Regions from separate parts of the Homo sapiens genome. Here region 1 is linked to region 2. A link means that fine-mapping ties the variant in region 2 to the expression of a gene that starts in the linked region. Tissue or cell type: cerebellar hemisphere. Region 2 holds a variant in brackets; the other region holds the start of a gene. All regions are shown on one strand. Distances are from middle to middle.

Region 1 (10,016 bases), 200 kb before region 2:
CAGAGGTGATTAAGAAAAATGAAAGAAAAAAATGCAAAAAGAGAACAGGCAGAGACGGTGGTAGCTGCTTTCTTGATGTTGATACTGAGGGCCAAGCTTTCCACCACCCCCTTGTAGTTGCAGAAAGCCTCAGATGTAATGGTAGTGTTACGGGATCTTTGGACGGGTGTGGGAGGTATTGATTTTCTTCCTGGGAGCGCCTTTGCCTGAGTTCTTGTCCTGTGTCCAGGAATAATGAGGTACTCGAAGAACTTACTGAGTGTTAAGCAGCTCAGAGAAGACCCGCAGTGGGTAGCTCCTCTGAGCAAGTCATCCCATGGAGTGTTCAGCTCTCAGCAGACAGGAGGCCTGGAGAGGGTAGCTCCCCCTCTGCCCACTGGTTATCCTGCCACCTGCTGCTCTCAGCAGAAAGAAGACCCAACCCTGGAGAGGGGAGCTGCTCTCAGCAAAAAGAAGACCTCACCCTGTAGAGGGGGGCTGCTCTCAGCAGAGAGAAGACCCAACCCTGGAGAGGGGGACTGCTCTAGGGGATCCTGGCGGGGGGTGCTCCTGGAGAAGGAGGCTGTTCTGGGGGATCCTCTCCTCAGGTCATTTGGAAGTCTCTACAGGAGGAGGGGGGCCTCCTCTCCGCAGGTCCTTTGAAAGGCTCTGCAGGTCTCTGCAGCTCTGGCAGAGAGGGTAGCTCCTTTCTACAGCTACTCTTCCCGCTGTCTCTCCATCCTCTCCTGCAGTTTGGCTGAGCCCAGGGCTTTTATGGACCTCAGAAGGGAGGAAGTGTGTGCTGACTGGCCCATGGGCGGCCATGGGTGAGCCTGGAGGAGGCACCACAAGCTCCCACTCAGGTCTGTGGGACTGGCAGCCTGGTCCCCAGTCTTCAGTCCCTCCCTGACCTGAAGGTGGGGCCTTACTGGAGACCTACCCCCTTCTGCCCAGGAATCGATCTGCCTCCTACTGTCATTCATGGCCCCTGGGGCTTGGCCCCAAGCCCTGCTCCATGATCAGAGCAGGGGCGGCAGCAGAGAGAGGCCAGGCAGCAGGAACAGACACCCCCTAGCGACGGGGTGCGGTGGGGTCCTTTCTGGGGTCCACGAGGGTGCAGGCTGCAGAGACCCTCTGGGTCCTGCACCTAGGAGGGCAGATCTTGCCTGCTCCCAGCCCCCTCCAAGAGCACCGGGAGGCTCGGATCCACAGCCGCTGTTTGGGCAGTTGTAGCCCCGCCCAGGAGGGTGGCGACCCTGCCTGCTCCGTAAAGCAGGAGGCCTGGATCTGCAACTGCTGTTTGGGCGGCTGCAGCAGCACCTGGGGAGCTCTCCCCAACTCAGAAGGGGGAGGCATCCACCAGCATGCAGCCCCAGCTGTGCCTCCCTGCCGCAGCCCGGTGATGGCAGCAGCTACTGCAACAATAGTGTAAACAGTGGCCGGGCGCGGTGGCTCACGCCTGTAATCCCAGCACTTCGGGAGGCCAAGGCAGGTGGATCACGAGGTCAGGAGATCGAGACCATCCTGGCTAACACAGTGAAACCCCGTCTCTACTAAAAAAAACACAAAAGAAAATTAGCCGGGCGTGGTCGCGGGGGCCTGCAGTCCCAGCTACTCAGGAGGCTGAGGCAGGAGAATGGCGTGAACCCAGGAGGCGGAGCTTGCAGTGTGCCGGGATCGCGTCACTGCACTCCAGCCTGGGCGACAGAGCGAGACTCTGTCTCAAAAAAAAAAAAAAAAAAAGGGTAAACATTTTGAACTGTATGCATTATTATATCAAGGAGTAGCATATCTTGCATGAATGCTCTCTTTTGTGTCTAGGTATTCTAAACACTCTTAATGTGAAAATGAAGTGCATGTAGCAAAAACCTTTTATTATAAGAAACTTTACAACACTTGTGAAAAAAATTAAATTTGGTTTGTGCACAGTGTAACCTTTCTCCAGATATTGTCCAAAATTACACACGCACAAACCGTTCACCCTAATTAGGCGTTGGCCTCAACCTAAACATCTGGGACTGTTATCTATTAAACTGCTGCCAGAATCTTACATCCAGTTACCTCCACTTTCTAGAACATATTCTCTAATAATGCCATAGAAACCAATTTCTACTCCATACTGATGTTTTTTTGCAACAGCAATTAAAATTTTTTCTTCCAAAAAACCCCATTGTTCTGGGACAGGATTCATTGGTTTCATCAGATGCCTGAGACGTCCACAGTGTAAAAAAGGCCAATTATTCTAGCTTTATAGTCCCAATGCTAAGGTCATGCCAATGATCCCATATGTCTGGCCCTCTGGGGGAATGTGGTGAAAGTAGGTACTTAATACATCCTTTTTGAATGAATGGTTTGGAGTTCTTGTCATAATTATAGAATTATAAAGCTGGAAAGTCTTTAGAAAGTCTTTATTACAATGATTTTCAAAGTGTTTGGCCATGACTCATAGCAAGAAATGGATTTTCACTTGTGACCCAGTAACCGCATGGGTGAAACAGTTTTTATAAAACATGATGTAACTTTACTATGTATGATGCACTCTTATATCTTCTATTCTACTTCTTTCTTAATGTATTCCATTTCTCTTTTTTGAGATGATTAATTGAATTTTTATCCAAAACAACTGGCTTCAATTGAAAATTATTAGTAGCAGATTTGGGAGCAAGTAAACAGAAATGGAAAGCCTTAGTATTTGGCTTAATTATTCTAAAAGCACACTGATCACATTTATGCTTTTTTAATTTTAAATTTTAATTAAATTTTAAGTTAAAAGGCATAAATGTGATCAGTGTGCTTTTAGAATAATTTGAAGGTGGGGTATTTAAAGTTAATGTGTAGAAAAGAAAAAAAACCTTACATAACCCCAGATCACACAAATTAAAATTCACTTAGTCATACAGTTGTGAGCACTTTTGACAGCCAAAATTTCACCCTTCTTAAAGTAGGAGTCTTTCAAAAATACTTCTTCATATTCAAAAGCTAAAAGTTAGAGTGAAGATGGCCCAATTATCTCGGTGTGGGAGAGGTTACATAATAATCTATTTCCAAAACCCACAAAAACCCGTAAATGTCACCAACAAAAACAAAGCAGCAGATTGGCCAAAACTAAGGCAACTGGTTATACAGGAAGGCAGCAGGTCACTCATTTAACTGCTAAAAGCCATTGCTTTGTAGTACTAATGTTAATTCCTTTCCACACTTCAGGAACCCACATCCCAGCCATTGCAGGGTCAGTTTCTGTGTATTTAGCTCTGTGGAATGTGCCCGAACACCAGTCAGCACTTAAGTCAATCTAAGTTTGAAAATCAGCTCACTGGCTTCATGATATAATTTGTACATTCTTCCTTAGCTTCAGGGGCACATGCCTGACCCTGGTCCAATAGATCCAGAATGGTTACAAGGATATCTTGACTTATAAGAGATGCCACATAAGAATTTTGACAATTCAGTCTTGAAGTCTGCTCACTTTGACCCAAACTTTTTAAGCCAGTGACATGCAGAGGGTCCACTGGGGCTGGATGAAATTTCTATGGACAGAGATGTCACAGAGCTGGGAAGGAGAGAAATAGCTCTCCAGTCAATGTGACTGAGAAAAATTAGTCATATCACTCTGAAACATGTGAACTTGAGGGTTAAGGATGCTGGCATGCAGGGAAGTCATGTGTGCAGCAGAAGAGCTGCAGGATGTCTTCTCTTTTGTGTTAATGTGAGATTACTGAGGACAAGAGAATAGGTCCTGGGAGATGTGGGTGTATTTGCCAATTTCTCACCACACATAGCCTCCTCAAAAAGCCCCCAAAGATGGCCAGGTGCAGTGGCTCATGCCTGTAATCCCAGCAACTTGGGAGGCAGAGGTGGGTGGAGCACCTGAGGTCAGGAGTTTGAGACCAGCCTGGCCAACATGGTGAAACCCCGTCTCTACTAAAAAAAAAAATACAAAAAAAAATTAGCCGGGTGTGGTGGTGGGTGCCTGTAGTCCCAGCTACTGGGGAGGCTGAGGCAGGAGAATCACTTGAACCCAGGAGGCAGAAGTTGTAGTGAGCCGAGATTGCGCCACTGCACTCCAGCCTGGGTGACACAGCAAGACTCAGTCTCAAAAGAAAAAAAAGCCCCCAAAGATGAACTTCACCTAGTTGTAAGTGGTCTAATAGTCCTCCGTCTCTCTCTCTATATATATATTTGAACTTCAAAACTAGTTTTTTCGAAAAATATTTTTTAGAGCCAGGGTCTCACTCTGTCACCCAGGCTACAGTGCAGTGGCCCAATCATAGCTCACTGCAGCCTCAAACTCCTGGGCTCAAGTGATCCTCACTTCTGCCTCCTGAGCAGCTGGGTCTACACGTGCACACCACTGCGTCTGTAACTTTAAAATTTTTTGTAGAGATTGGGTCTCGCCATGTTGCCCATACTGGTCTTGAAATCACGGCCAGAAGCAATCCTCCCCCCTTGGCCTCCCAAAGTGCTGGGATTACAGGAGTGAGCCACCACATCTGAGCCACAGGGCGGCCTCCATAATGGGGCATGAGCCTCTTCCCATCTTTTTTTGTTGTTGTTATTCGAGACAGTCTCACTCTGTTGCCCAGGCTGGAGTGCAGTGGTGTGATCTGTGCTCACTGCAACTTCTGCCTCCAGGGTTCAAGCGATTCTCCTGCCTCAGCCTCCCAAGTAGCTGGGATTACGGGCACATGCCACCACACCCGGCTAATTTTGTTTTTGTTTCTGTTTTTTTTTTTTTTACTTGAGACGGGGTTTCACCATATTGGCCAGGTTGATTTCAAAACTCCTAACCTCAAGTGATCCACCCACTCCGACTCCCAAAATGCTGGGATTACAGGCATGAGCCACCACACCCAGCCCCATCTCTTTTTTTTTTTTTGAGACGGGGTCTAGTTCTGTTCCCCAGGCTGGAGTGCAGTGGCGTCATCACGGCTCAATGTAGCCTCAACCTCCAGGGCTTAAGCGATCCTCCTGCCTCAGCCTCCCAAGTAACTGGAACTACAGGCATGTGCTAATTGTTTTTATTTTTAGTAGACACGAGGTCTCTCGCTATGTTGCCCAGGCTGGTCTGGAAACCCAGAGCTCAAGCAAGCCTCTCACCTCGGCTCCCAAAGTCCTGGGATTACAGACGTGAGCTACTCTGCCTGGCCCTCAAAAAAAAAAAAAAAAAAAGTCAGTTGACAACCTATTAAACTGATATCTGTCACGTTAATGGGTCATGACTAGCAGTTTGAAAGACAAAGCTCGATTTCACTGAATTTATTTCAGCAACAGAAGTTATTAGCTTTAGTCCAATCTCAAAAGTACAAAATGAAATTGCAACACAAACCTCTAAACCTGCAGTTGCCGGAAGCTAAACGTCTGCGCTTCCGGAAGCAAATTTCCAACTACCACTCCTCTGGAAGCAGGACCTGGCTTCCTCCCTCCTCTCTCCGCCCACCCTCGTCGGCGTCTGCCCCGCGCCCGCCATAGCGACGGCAACGGGCGCTGCGGAGTGCTCCGAGCCGTGAGGGCGGGGCCGGCGCGATGCCCCGCCCCTTCGATAGCTCATCTTTGCGCGTCGCAGTCGCGCGGAGCCCGGCTTCCGACGTGCAGCCTGGCAGTGCAGTGGTGAGTTGGAGCGCAGGGCCGTTGGGGATTGGGGTCATTAGGGCCGTTGACAGTCCAGGCCAGAGGGCGAGTGAGCGAGGTTGGGCCCGAGGCTGCCTGTAAGCAGGTCCGTTCAGGGATGCTCCAGGCCCTGGGGCCTGAGGGTGGCTTCCATGGCTCCATTTGCCCTGGCTGTTCCTCGGTGTACGGGGCCTGAGGGGAGTGGGGGAGGCCCGTGGGTGGCCTCCTTTTGCGTCCTGAGAATGTTCTGGGCAGTATCGAGATTAGGGCTGGTTTCTCTGCGGAGGAGATCATTTATCCGTAGCTGGGAGGGCTGTATTAACCGAAGTTTTCCAGTAGTGGGCCACGCTGTCTTAGGTAGCGTGCTGGACAGATACAGACATCACTGGACGGGTACAGACAGAGGCTGGGTTCGCTTTACGCCAAGTACCGTGCAATACTGTGGGCTGTTGACTTGCCTGAGTAGTTTCATAGAGGCATCTGTAGTGTTCCTTGGAAACACTGAGTCAGTGATGAATTCTGCCTAGGAAATTTAGGGAAAAGTTTCCCAAAGAGAGAAGATGGCAAGAGAGGGCTAAGGTCTAAAGTCTCTTAGCTCTGACCTTCATAAGACCCTGAAGTAAGAGGTAGTGTATCTTGGTAGCCTATACTATAGCTTGTATCCACCTTTTAGTGTCCCTTGGGGAAGCTTCCTTAACCGCTTCTAAGCCTCCCTTTTCTTACTAGAAAAGTGGAACTGATAATAAAAAAATAGTAGTTCCCCCCTTATCTGCGGGGTGTACGTTCCAGTGGATGTCTGAAATCTTGGATAGTGAAGGACCCTGACTGACTTACCGTGGTTTGACTTACAATTTTTCAACTTTACATAGGTTTATTGGGAAGTAACCCCATTGTAAGTTGAGGAGCATCTATACTGTGTTTTTTCTCATACAGATTACACATACATACCTGTGATTACTTAGTTTAATTCGTAAATTAGGCACAATAAGAGAATAACAACAATAATAATAAAATAGAATTATAACAGTGTAATAAAATGTATGTGAATGTGGTCTCTCTCAAAATATCTTACTGCACTCTACTCACCTATTTTTGGACTACGGTTGACCTCTGGAACTGTGGAAATCAAAACCTCAGCTAAAGAACTACTGTACCTAGTAAGCGGGGTTATGAGGTTTCAGTGAGCTAAATCTTTGTGTATTACTTAAAATAGGACCGGATTCATTGTACATCCTCAAATGTGCACTCATTGATAGAATCACACCCTTGTCTTTTGGAGCCCGGGTTTTTGGAAGCTGGCTTACCGCAAGCCTTCCTCCTTTTTTTGTTTCTATCCATTGCCAAATGTGAGGCCCAGAATGACAGGGAAGAGGACAAGCCTGTGCTTCAGCAGGCAGAAGGCTGTGCTGAAGCAGAGGTTGAATACCATTCCCATTAGCCAAACTGGCTTGAGCACTTTCCTGTCTTTCCTACCCTGGGCAGAAAGAACCCTGTTCATGGGTCACAAATGAATAAAACACTACCAACCTGTCTGTAATCCCAGCACTTTGGAAGGCCAAGACAAGAGGATCGTTTGAGGCCAGGAGTTTGATACCAGCCTGGGCAACATAATGAGAACTTGTCTTTACAAAACCAAAACAAAACACTACCAATTTGAGATCTTCATAGGCAAGGATTAGTTATAAATTGTTTGTTTGTTTGATTTCCTGTTATTGGAAAACCTTCGGCAGCTTTTTAGGCTGGCAGATTTAAAGAAAGTAACCTGAACCTGGATGCCTTAACTGTGTGGTCCCTTAAACTGCCAATGGGTAGAATTGCGAGGGCCGTGAACTTGGCTGAGAGGAAAAATTGCATCTTTATGTTTCCTAACCTCCAACTGAAATTTAGCATTTTCTTCCACTGTGAATGTAGGCAACAAATCACATTATTAGCAGTGTGACTTTGTTATGAATATAAATTATAGATATTTTCATATCATGATATTGTGTAAGCTCATTGCAACTTCGAAATTATGGTAGTTATTAAATTTGCTTCTAGATCACATATATAATGTGTCAGTAAAGAAGCACATATGTTTTTGTATTTTGATAAAATTTTAGCATACAGTCTATCCTCATTATTTGTGGATTCTGTATTTATGAATTCACCTACTTACTAAAATTTGTCTGTAGCCCTCAAATTAATACTTACAATGCTTTTGTGGTCTTTGGAAGACATGACATTTTTTCACGTGAAAAATTTTAGTTGCCTGATGCACATGTTCTCAACTGAAGTCAAACAAGGTGACACTGCCTTCTTGTCAACTCTCATATTGTAAGCAAATGTCATTTTTGCAGTCTTTGGTGCTACATTTTTCTCATCTTTGTGCTTTTTGTCGGTGATTCCACTGTTTGAGATAGCCCCCAAGCATAGTGCTGAGGTGCTTCTAAATGCAAGAAGATTGTGATTTGTCTTATGGAGAAAATATGTGTGTTAGATAAGCTTTGTTTAGGCATGAGTTCAGTATTAATGAATTACTAATGTATATTCAGTAAGTGCCTTTAAACATAAACACACATAAAACATGATTATGTATTGATTGGTTGACAAGAATGTGCCCAGAGGCTTTCAGGAACCTGTTTCCCCAAGGAACAGTGGTTCTGTGTTGGATAATTTAGTGTCTGTAGCGACTTCATAGAACATAATTGTTGTGAATAATGAGAACCTACTGTAATTGGTTTCATTTCTAAACCTGTGTATTTTCTGTAAAGACATCCTGAGCCTGAGTCTGGTGGCTCATACCTGTAATCCCAGCACTTTGGGAGGCCAAGACAGGAGGATTGCTTGAGCCCAGGAGTTCAAGACCAGCCTAGGCAACATAGGGAGACCCCATCTCTACAAAAAATTAAAATATCCAGACATGTTGGCACGCACCTGTAGTCCCAGCCACTCGGGCTGAGGTGGGAGCAAGACTTGGCCTGGGAGGTTGAAGCTGCATTGACCATGATTGTGCCACTGCACTCCAGTCTGGGTGATGGAGCAAGACCCTATCTCGAAAAAAAAAAGTCCGCCAAAGGGGGTCTTTGGCACACACAAAGAAATAAGAACCATTAGCCCTTAATGTAGCCTGAGAAATTAGATCTATCCTTTTTTTTTTATTTTTTATTTTTATTTTTTAAGATGGAGTCTCGCTCTGTCACCCAGGCTGGAGTTCAGTGGCACAATTTCAGCTCACTGCAACCTCCGCTGCCTAGGTTCAAGTGATTCTCCTGCCTCAGCCTCCTGAGTAGCTGGGATTACAGGTGTGCGCCACTACACCCAGCTAATTTTTGTATTTTTATTAGAGACGTGGTTTCACCATGTCAGCCAGGATGTTCTCAATCTCTTGACACGTGTCTCCCTCCAGCTTCTGCCCTTATTTACCTGCCTGTTGGCTCTTAAAGGCATTTTTGGTTGAGACTTTTGCATGTAAAATAAGAACTTTGCCATCTTTGGATTCCCCCATGTTTGTTTGTTTGTTTTTAATAAATAATATTTAATATTAAAAGGAGCTGTGGTTTTTTTCTCTCTAAAGAGCAGGAAAGGACAGAGACTGGTCGCTCTCTGCAGTCACACTTGAGGTGAAGAAACCATGGGATAGAATTAGCTGTTAGTTGAGTCCCTAGGTTCAGAGGAAGAAAGAAGACCATACCACCTGGTAGGGAGTGCGAAGGAGGTTCCAGGGACTGATCCATAGAAGGGTGTCAGAACAACTTCATAATAAAGAGTTGCCTTATTTTCTTGGTCAAGGGGAACTTCCTGTGTGCCTTCTATCCTGATGACACCCCCTCACTGAAATCCTGGTGTTGTTTCCACAGAGCTGTCTGGCCTTTTGTCCTTGATCCTTGGTTAAGGAAATGACCAACCAGGTAAGACCTGTGTTGAAGGGAAAAACATCAATTGGTCTCTTTGCCAAGTTCAAGTCCAGTAGGTTTTCTGGATGTGTAGTCAAGAAACTAGCATCTCATTCTTGCCTGGCTCCTAAAGAGCTGGGTGACCCTGGGTACCTAGTCACCACAGTGTTAGGTGGGACTAGTGAAATGCAAATACTGAGAGGAGGATTGGTTCATCCAAGTCTTTACCACAATTTAGTGAGTAATAGAAGAAGCTTAAAAGATGTTGTACAAAAAAAAAAAAAAAAAGATCAGAATAGGAGATAGAACAGGAGAAACATATCTTTGTAATAAGATTAGGGACAAAGTTAATAGACGGTTAGGCAGGCTGTGTGTTCTTATTGCAGCTGCAAAATTTAAGCTACAAACTGGACTTTGAGCTTCCTTGGTGATCAGAACAGAAAAAGAAAACATAATTTATTGGTCTCTTGTTGAGTGAGTTTGGGTAGTAGGAAGGAGGGGAGAATGTCAGTTTCTTTAAGAATTTTTTTCTGATATGACTGTACAAATCTTGCATGA
Region 2 (10,016 bases):
CTCTCTCAGATAAGCCGAGGCCCCCTGTCTTGGCTATAGTCCTCCTGCCCGTACATGCAAGGGTTGGATACATGACACTCAGGGTCCCTTCCAGCGCTCATGCTCTAGAACTTGTTCTTTTTTTTGTTTGTTTTTTGAGATGGAGTCTTGCTGTGTTGCCCAGGCTATAGTGCAGTGGCGCAATCTCAGCTCATTACAACCTCAGCCTCTTGGGTTCAAGCTATTCTCCTGCCTCAGCCTCCTGAGTAGCTGGGATTACAGGCTCCCACCATCATGCCCAGGTAATTTTTGTATTTTTGTAGAGACAGGTTTTCCCCAAGTTGGCCAGGCTGGTCTCGAACTCCTGACCTCAGGTGATCCACCCGTCTCAGCCTCCCAAAGTGCTGGGATTACAGGTGTGAGCCACCACACCCGGCCTAGGACTCGTACTTTACCTTGGCATTCAAGGCCTTGGGTCACCAGCACTCCCACCCAACTTTCCCTTCCCGTGCTCCTCCCACCTCCATTGTGGTCCACTGGTCCCTCAGTGGCCCCAAACCCACTCACTGCTGCATTTCCCTTCAGAATGGCCCATCTCCAAGTCCATCACTCATTTGACAAATATTTAGTGAGCACCAACTATGTGCCAGACAGTGTCCTAGGTGCCAAGGACTCTGGTGAGCAAGACTAACTCTTGGGAGTTTATATTCTAATCTGGGAGATGGGCAGCCTACTGCTGCGCTGTGTAGCACAATATGGTTTGATGTGCTATATGATGGGTGAATATATCACAAGACAATGGAGTGTGGGGGCATGATCAGTGCTACAAAGAACGAAGCAGGGTCATGGGATAGAGAGAACGGCAGGTGGGGAAGGCAACATTTTCTGTCATGTAGGTGGGCCTTTCTGAGGAGGTGATATTTAAGAAGAGAATGGAATGCAGTTAGAGTGTAAACCATGCAGATATCTTGTAGGAAGAGCATTGCAGGCAGATGGTAGAGCCAGTGCAGAGGCCCTGAGGTGGGAGCAAGGTTGGTATGTTCAAGGATGATCTAGAAGGCCAAAGAAGCCAATGAAAAGGCCTCACTGAAGCCTCCAGTGAAGAAGCAGAGGGTAGCAGGGCATCTGGTGAGGCTCTTGTGGGCCCCAGTGAAGTGTTTAGGTTTTATTCTAAATATGAGGAGAAGCTGTTGGCATGCTGTGATCTGATATAAAGAAAAATCCTTCGGCCAAGCGCTGTGGCTCACGCTTGTAATCCTAGCACTTTGGGAGGCCGAGGTAGGCGGATCACCTGAAGTCAAGAGTTCAAGTCCAGCCTGGCCAACATGGCGAAAACCCGTCTCTACTAAAAATACAAAAAAAAAAAAAAAAAATTAGCCAGGCATGGTGGCGTGCACCTGTAATCCCAGCTACTCAGGAGGCGCAGGCAGGGGAAATCACTTGGATCCAGGATGCAGAGATTGCAGTGAGCCGAGATGGTGCCACTGCCCTCTAGTCTGGGTAACAGAGCGAGACTCTGTCTCAAAAATAAAAATAAAAATGGCTGGGCACAGTGGCTCATGCCTGTAATCCCAGCACTTTAGCCAAGGCGGGCGGATCACTTGAGGTCAAGAGTTCAAGACCAGCCTGGCCAATATGTTGAAACCCTGTTACTACCAAAAATACAAAAATTAGACGGGTGTGGTGGCAGGTGCCTGTAATCCCAGCTCCTCGGGTGGCTGAGGCAGGAGAATCACTTGAACCCAGGAGACGGCGGAGATTGCAGTGAGCTGAGATTGCACCATTGCACTCCAGCCTGGGCATTGCAGCGAGACTCTGTCTCAAAAAAAAAAAAGAAAAGAAAAATCTTTCTGAGTCCATGGGGTGCTATGGAGAAGAATAAAATATTGACTCACAGGCACCCCATGCTACAGCTTACTAAGGGATATTCAGGCATTTCATATCCATTTTCTCATTCAAGCTTCACAAGAACCTCAGGCATGGTAAACTGAGGCTCAGAGAAATTATGTGACTCGCCTAAAGCCACATCGCTAGAAAATGGCCAAGCCAAGGCTTGAACCAAATCTAACTGGCCACAGGCAGGCCATGGCACGGGTGAACCCTGGGTGATTCCAAGCTGGGTCCGCACCTCTGGGCCTGGCTCACCCTCCACAGCCGGAGGGAGTGGCTGGCCTGGCCTCAGGGTCTGACTGGGAGCATGGCACCCACATCCCTGGTCTGGCAACCCTGACTCTAGGTGGCCCATAATGCTCCTCACCTCCATGCTTTCCTCCTGGGAGAGGTTCCGGGGACTCACATCCAGGCTTTTCTGTGCATGGAGGAAGGAGACCTGGGGCTTTGGAGAAGAGCGGGGGCTGGCGGCCTTGTCGGGGACCACTGTGAGGAATGCCGTGGCAGGTGGGTTTTCTGGGTCCACGATGGTCTGGTGGAGGCCCCGGGTGATGGCATCATACAGATCATTGTCCTCTGGCTGGGAGCATGCGGATACGGCAGGTATGTGGTCACACATGCCCAGCCAGTCTCCAGCTGCCTGCCTGAGACTGCTGGTAAGAGACTGCAACATTCCCACCAGGTCTCTGACCTCAGGTAAGACATTGCCACAGTCTCCCTTTTTCCAATAGGGATCATGACCCCACACCAAGTGCCCCTGGGTGATAGTAAATAGGGAGGGCTTGAAAAGGAGTATGTCTGAGTGATGGATACCCCAGGCCTGGGCTCTCTGCCCTGCCACCCTCACCCTGGGGAAGTGGGGCGCCTACCCGGGGGCAGGCAGCAGTCAGCATCTCTTTGAAGGGCTCGAGCTGTGCCTCCTGGTAATGGTGCACAAGCTCAGCCAGGGTGCTGTGGCTCTGGGTGTCTCCTGAGATGATGTAACGCCGGTTTCGAAGCTGGTTGATGACAAAATGTCGGCAGCGATCACTGCCCCTGCAACACAAGTGCTTGTGGTCTGGGGCTGCTGGTCACAGGCAGCCCAGCCTTGGCCCAGGGTCTGAGCTCTGTGCCTGGGTGCAGGTGAGGGGTCCCAGCTCTTGATCCAGAACAGACCTGCCTGACCTGGGGCCACTGTACCCCACTTGGAGCCATGGTGTGTTCATCAGGAAGCTACGGAGAGGTTTTCAAACCGTGGAGCCCTGGGATCCTGGGAAGTACCTAAGCCTGCTCTGGTGGAGTCAGGGAGAGCACGGCTGTGACTGGAGTGAGGCAAGTGAGGCACTCATCTTAGGTGCGAAATTTAAAGGGGCACCAAAAAACTCAATAAAGAAAACTAATAACGCAGTATTTTAGAAAATCAAAATATATGAAAAAAATCCACAATGAACAAAACACCAAAGTTTTAAATAAAGACAGGATCCAACCCTGCACCTGTACAACTCAACCTCACCCTACTCCCCACCCTGCTGCAATGATGGAGTTCCAGCTCCCACCCCCTCTTCGGCCTGTAAAGTCCCACCCTAAAATCCTACCCTCTTCATCTCCCTTTTTCCTAGAAGAATAACCTCTACACAGTGATGTGTGTACATTATAAATGTGCAGCTTGATGAATTTCCATATAGGAACCCTCCCATGTAACTGCCACTCAGGTCAAGATACAAAACCCTTCCAGCCCCCAGAAGACCTACTTGCGCTCCCATCCAGTCAATGCCCCCTAAAGGTAGCCACCATTCCGACGCCTATCAGCATAGATTAGTCTTGCCCATTAGAGAACTTCTATAATACTTCTCTTTTGTGTCTAGCACATTTCACTCAACATTATATCTTGGAGATTGATTCATGTCCAAGTAGAATTAGTTTCTTTTTTTTCTCATTTATATGTAGTATTCTAGTTAATGAAAAATCCACCATGTACCTATTCTGATGATAGACATTTAGGTAGTTTCCGGATTTGGGCTGTTATAAATAAAGCTGCTGTGAGCATTCTTGTGCATATCTTTTGGTGAATATGTACTCATTTCTGATGTGAATATACCAAGGAGTAGAGTTGATGGGTCAAGGGTACACCCGTGTTTGGCTTTAGTAAATCATGCCAAATTGCTTTCTAAAATTATTGCAATGCGCCAGGTGCAGTGGCTCATGCCTGTAATCCCAGCACTTTGAGGGGCCGAGGCAGGCAAATCACTTGAGGTCAGGAGTTCAAGACCAGCTTGATCAATATAGTGAAACCCCATCTCTACTAAAAATTAAAAAAAAAAAAATAGCCGGTGTCGTGGTGGTTGCCTGTAATCCCAGCTACTCTGGAGGCTGAGGTAGGAAAATTGCTTGAACCCTGGAGGCGGAGGTTGCAGTGGGCTGAGATTGTGCCATTGCACTCCAGCTAGGTGACAAGAGTGAAACTCCATCTCAAAAATAAAATAAAATTATTGCAATGTATGAGAGCTCCAGTTGTTCCACATATTCTGTCTTTCCATTATAGCCATCCATTGTGGCTTTAATTTGTGTTTCCCTGATAGCTAATGATGCTGAACATGTTTTCATATGCTTATGGGCCTTCTGGGTTTTTCTTTTTGGTAAAGTGCCTGCTCAGTTCTTTTGCTTTTACTTATTGAATTATCTATTTTTGCTTATTTATTTGTAGGAGTTCTTTATATATTCTGGATTTGAGTCCTTTGTTAGATATTTGTATTCTAATAGATAACTTCTTCAAGACTGCACCCTGACCTTTTTCTTCTCTTAATAATATCTCTTTATAAGAATTATAAAAATTCTTAATTTTGGCTAGGTGCAGTGGCTCAC[G/A]CCTGTAATCCCAGCACTTTGGGAGGCTGAGGCAGGTGGATCACCCAAGGTCAGGAGATTGAGACCAGCCTGACCAATATGGTGAAACCCCATCTCTACTAAAAATACAAAAATTAGCTGGGTGTGGTGGCGTGTGCCTGTAGTCCCAGCTAGTTGGGAGGCTGAGACAGGAGAATTGCTTGAACCCGGGAGGCAAAGGTGGCAGTGAGCAGAGATCGCGCCACTGCACTCCAGCCAGAGCGAGAGAGCGAGACTCTGTCTCCAAAAAATAAATAAATAAATAAATAAATTTTAAAAAATTCTTAATTTTAAGGAAATCAAGTTAATCACTCTTTTAAGATTAGCGCTTTTTGTGTCCTGTTTAAAAAAACTTGGCCTCTCATTTTCAAAGGCATTTTCATTTACCTATGACAATGTTTTCCTGTTTTCTTCTAGAAATGGTATTGTTTTGCTTTTCTTTCTTGGATCTACGATCCATCTAGAATTAATTAATTTTCATGTATGGTATGAGGTAGCAGTAATTGTTTTCCATTTAGATATCCAATTGCTCCTGCACCAATTATTGAAAAAACAAGCCTTTCCCCCACGGAATTGCAGTGATGCCTCTGTTGTAAATCTGGTAACCAAACATTTGGGACTATTTTGGGACTCTATTCTGTTAATTTTTCTATTTGTATACCTTTGGGCGGTCCCACTTTGGTCTCTTTTATAAGTTAGTATTCTCCCTAAGATCTCACCTGGGAAGAAACAAAACAAAAGAAAATAAAAAAATCCCCAAAGCTCAAAAGACATTTGAAAACTACTGAGTTAGTATATTTCAAAATGCCTAGCACAGTGTCTGGCACACAGAATAAAAATATTTTAACAATGATTAACATTTATTTAAAGTCCTTACTACATTTTATGCATTGTGTTAAACAGTTTTAAACGTATCAACTGATTGCACACTTTCATCAAGCCTATGAAGCAGGTACTATCATATTCCCATTTTACAGATGAGGAAACGGGGGAACAGAGAAGCAAAGTAACTTGCTCAAGGTAAGGGTTTGAACTGGGGCAGTCTGAATATGTGACAATTTTGAATCAGAATCTGAAGCCTTTTAAGTTTACTCTGGAGCCCTGGCCTCCCTCCCTACTTAGGGAAGCCTTCTTACCTCCTCTGAATTCCCCGTCCTGACCAACCTACTCTTGGGACAAGATCTGACATCACCATCTTTGCCTTTGTCCTCGCTACCTTGTCTCCTTCTCTCTATCCCCACTGTCTTACCCTAGCCTAGACCTCATTATCTCACATCCAGGCAATTGCAGGAGTCCCCAGTGCCCCCACACCTCCAGCTCTGACTTCCAGTCCTCTCTCCATAGGCTGCCTAAAGGACCTATGCAAATACATTGAACCAGATCATCCTTCATGGTCTACAGACTTAGCCAGGCATCCAAGGCCATTCTAAGCTTTTTCCACCCTCCCTTCCAGGCATTCCTCCAAAGGAACCAAGTGTTCTGCTGCACCCAGCAACCTGCAGCTCCCCCAGCACCCTGCAGCTCCCCCAGCACCCTTGTCTTTCATGCCTCTGTATTTTTGCACATGGCGTTCCATCTACCAGAGATACCCTCCTAAACCCCAACCACACCCTCCTTTCTGCCTAGCAACTTGTATTCTTCCTTCTATCCTAGGCTCAAAGTTCACCTCTGTGAAGCCTCCCCGAACCCCACTCACCTCCTTTGAAGGCCGTGTCTTCATCCCTAGTATATGGCCAGTGCTGCTCAGGAAGTGTCTGCTGAGCATGTGATGGATGATTGAGGGATTCAGGAGTCAGGACCCAGGGAAATCTAGGCAATTTGGGCCAGTGGGGCCTCTGCACTAATCTGCAAGGCTAGGTTATGGTAGGATGAGCTTGCTTGCCCAGAGGGCTTCCCCTCTTACCTGTAGGACAAGATGTAGCCAGTGGCTCGGTCACTGAGGCGGATAAGGAAGGAACCAAGAGCTTTGTCCCTGAGTAGCTGCTCCGTCTGCCTGGGCAGAAGACATGCCATTAGCTGGGGTCTGTGCCCTAATGGCAGCAGGTGCAGCCTGACTTAGGCCTCTCTTGGAATCCCTGCTGGCCATGCCTTTGGGTTCCAGACCTCCAACCCTTTATAGAGGAGCCACTCAGACCTGTGGATGGGTCTGTGGCCTGTCAGGGTTCAGCATGTGGCCTATCTGAGCCCAAATGATTAAGTTCAAGACTGTCTGGGGCTGGGTCAGGGTCTGAAGCCATATGCAACCCCCCCAACTCCCCACTGCAGCCTCACTAGCAGGCACATTGGTTGCTGACCCTGGCCACCCACTCTCCACCTGGATGGTTGTGTAGCAAGAATAAATCCACACAGCTGGAGATGTTGAGGTTTAGTGGGGAGTCCCTCCCTCAGAACCACTGTGTACAGTGCTGCAGGATGTGCACTACACACAAGCTTCTGCAGGGAGAAGATGCTGCTGTGTCTGAAGCAGCTAAAAGGGACTCATTCCTCTTCCTGTCCCCTTCAATCCCAGGCAGTTACAGAGATTTTCCACATGGTGCCAAATACTTTGGAGGCATGAAGAAAAGTTCCAGCTGTCTTGTGGTTTGGCAGTACACAGACCAGATATGTATTCCCTCACTCACTTACTCACCAAATACCGAGCGCCTGTTCTACGCAGCTAAATCATTTGCAGGACCAGGTGCTAAATGAAAACATGGGGCCCCTGGTTCAAAACGATTTAGAGTTTCCAGACAGTGACAGCAGAGCATTAAACCAAATGTGGAGCCCTTTTGACCCTGTGCTGCTGCACGAGTCAGTGACCATAAAGCTGGCCCTGGCTCTGTGCAGGTGCTGTGCCAGGACCTAAGGACTGGCTGGATTTGCCATTCCTTCATCAGGTGTTTTGGCTGCTTGGAGACCCAGCCCAAATAGAAAGCCAAACCTGTATCTTGGCCTTTATACCTAGGATAACCATGCATCCAGGTTTGCCTGGGATGGCCCCATTTATGACGGTTCTCCTAGCTTAGTTACTAATAGTGTTCCGGTTTGGACGATAAAAGATATGGTCCCCTAGTTACTCATCAAGTCAGGGCCTGGCCCTCTTTCTGTCCTCTGGCAGCCTGGCAGCCCCAGCCATCCTCAACTTGTACTAAAGTAGAGGCCGTTGCCCTCCCCGACTCTGCCTACAGAAGCCACCACCAGAGGATGTGGCGCTCCTCAGTCTGTTCCCCTGCCCCCCGCCTCCAAGGGCCCCTGCCTAGCCCAGGGAAAGGATGGGAACCAGTCTGATCCAGAGTTCCCAGACCATTTTCTCAGCCCCAAGGGGCTGTGGGCTATGAGGGACCTGTGGGTAGAAGCAGCCTTACTTGCGGGTGATGAATCCATGAAACCAGGGAGGCAGGGCACCGTTCTGCAGAATGAAGGGGGCCTGTGTCTCCATGAACCACTTCAGGGCAAGCTCCTGGAGCTCAGCCAGGGCCTGGCTGTCCCCTGCCCCCTCAGGATCTCTCCCCAGGCTGAGCTGCTTTAGGCTGTCCTCCATGCTGGCAGGCACCAGAGTGGAAGCAGAGCGCAGCCAGTGCACATGCCTCTATATCTGCGTGTGCTCTGGCTCATTTGCCTGAGCCCGTGCCCTACCCAAGGGCCCATAGCACACAGCAGCCCCATTGTCACCTCTGGGCTGGTGGCTGGTTCTCTCCTCTGATGCTTTGGGGTGGGGCACCTTGGCTGGCTGCAGACATGGGGGAACAATCACCGTAGCAGCCTGAGAGGGGTAGGGAAGGCCCTCCGTGGCTTCCTGGCCAGCAGATAAGCTACCTCACTGGGTTTGGCCCTGTTCCCCACAACCTCCTGTCTTTGTCACAACTAAAGATCAGACCCTGGCAAAAGTCCACAGCACTGCCCCTGGGAGCAAAGCAGTGGATTTAAATTCTAGGTATCCTTCCTTCGTGGAGGCTATTTTTATTTTGATGGAGAAGTTCTGTGCTAACCAAGTCTTCCATCCACTCAAGATTTATTGAGTCCTTACTGTGTGCCATGTAAATCTGGGCCCTGGGAATAAAGCAGTGAATAAAACAGCACTTTGCCCTCATGGCACATACATTCTAGAGGGAGACAAACAAATATATGTGTAGAATATAGAGTCAAATGGAATAAGCACTCCAAGACAAAGGCAGAAGAACAAGAGAGCACATGGGCTGCATTATGCAGACACAGAGTCAGGGGTCGGGGTCAGCCTTGTCCAGGAGGTGACACTGAACAGTGAAGGAGGAAGCCAAGCATGTACCTAGGGGAGTAGACTCTTGTCAGCAGGGGGAAAGCATGTGCAAAGACGAAGAGGTGGGACTTTGTTGCAGATTTTGAAGAAAAAACAGAAGCTCATGTCGTTTTAACAGAGAGGGGACTTTGGAGTAGATGGGTCCCCTGGAAAGGCAGGGATAGGCCTGTGGTAGGAAGCTTTGGAGCAGTTAGGGCAATGGGACCATTTGTTCACACAAACATCCCTGAGTATCTAATGTGTTTCTGAGTTTCCTAGCAGAAATCCAGGCCGGGTGGATGGTAAGGCAGCAGATGGTGCAGTCAGCCTCAAGGATCTTGGTGATACTCCCACTTCCACCACACACTGATGTGAGACCACCCTGGGCAAGTAGCTGGGACTGACGTGGGGTCTCAAGAAACTTACTAAATTGTTGCAGAGAACTCAATTTCCTCATCTGTAAAATGGGCATGAGGCAAAGCTATTTTCTAGACTCTAGGGTCATTATGAGGACTAAGTGAGAGGGCATAATGGTTGATAATGAAGGGGCATTTATATAAGTTCAAAAATAGGATGCAGGTACTGTTACAATATGACTGAAGTGATTTGTTGTCATTTCCCCTGCTTAAAGCCCTTGATATATAACTATCTCTGTCTAACTCATTCTGAAGTAAGACAGAGATGCTTGGTTTCATTTTTCCTTGAGGCCAGACCTGTAATCCCAGTACTTTGGGAGCACAAGGTGGGAGGATCACTTGAGGCCAGGAGTTCATGGCCAGCCTGGGCAACATAGTGAGCCCCTGTATCTAAAAAGAAAAAGGCAGAACTAATCAATGGCGATAGAAGTTAAGATAGTGGTTACCTTGGGGACTGGGTGGGGAGCGAAAAGCTGCTGGTGCTGACAGTGTTCTGTTTCTTGATCTGGTTGGTGGGTTGAGTGAGTGTGGATTGAGTGAGTTGAGTGAGAGTGCTCACTGTGTGAAGATTCATGGTTCATGCATTTTTCTATGTCTATGTTCTACTTCAGTGAAAAAGTTTAAAAAAATGAGGGTGT

Direction of the effects. Positions count from the first base shown, and alleles are read on the strand shown. Sizes are in standard deviations (SD) of each study's normalised expression.
In carriers of allele G in region 2, the expression in cerebellar hemisphere of the gene that starts at base 5,539 in region 1 tends to be higher than with A alone (small effect, 0.23 SD a copy in GTEx).

The links. PIP is the estimated chance that this variant, and not a neighbour inherited with it, causes the effect.
Region 1: it holds the start of SKIC8, and the variant in region 2 is fine-mapped to the expression of SKIC8 in cerebellar hemisphere (GTEx, PIP 0.91).

Annotation. Positions count from the first base shown.
Region 1 is chr15:78,295,132-78,305,147 of GRCh38, reverse strand. SKIC8 (SKI8 subunit of superkiller complex) reads left to right here and starts at 5,539. Exons shown (of 11, transcript NM_025234.3): 1 at 5,539-5,586; 2 at 9,423-9,473. The coding sequence starts at 9,462. RefSeq lists enhancers at 5,142-5,231, 4,407-5,373, 5,472-5,821, 5,374-6,341.
Region 2 is chr15:78,090,817-78,100,832 of GRCh38, reverse strand. SH2D7 (SH2 domain containing 7) reads right to left here and starts at 8,272. Exons shown (of 6, transcript NM_001101404.2): 1 at 8,073-8,272; 2 at 6,632-6,721; 3 at 2,739-2,904; 4 at 2,237-2,449. The coding sequence starts at 8,248. The variant G/A (reference allele first, on the strand shown) is at 4,711.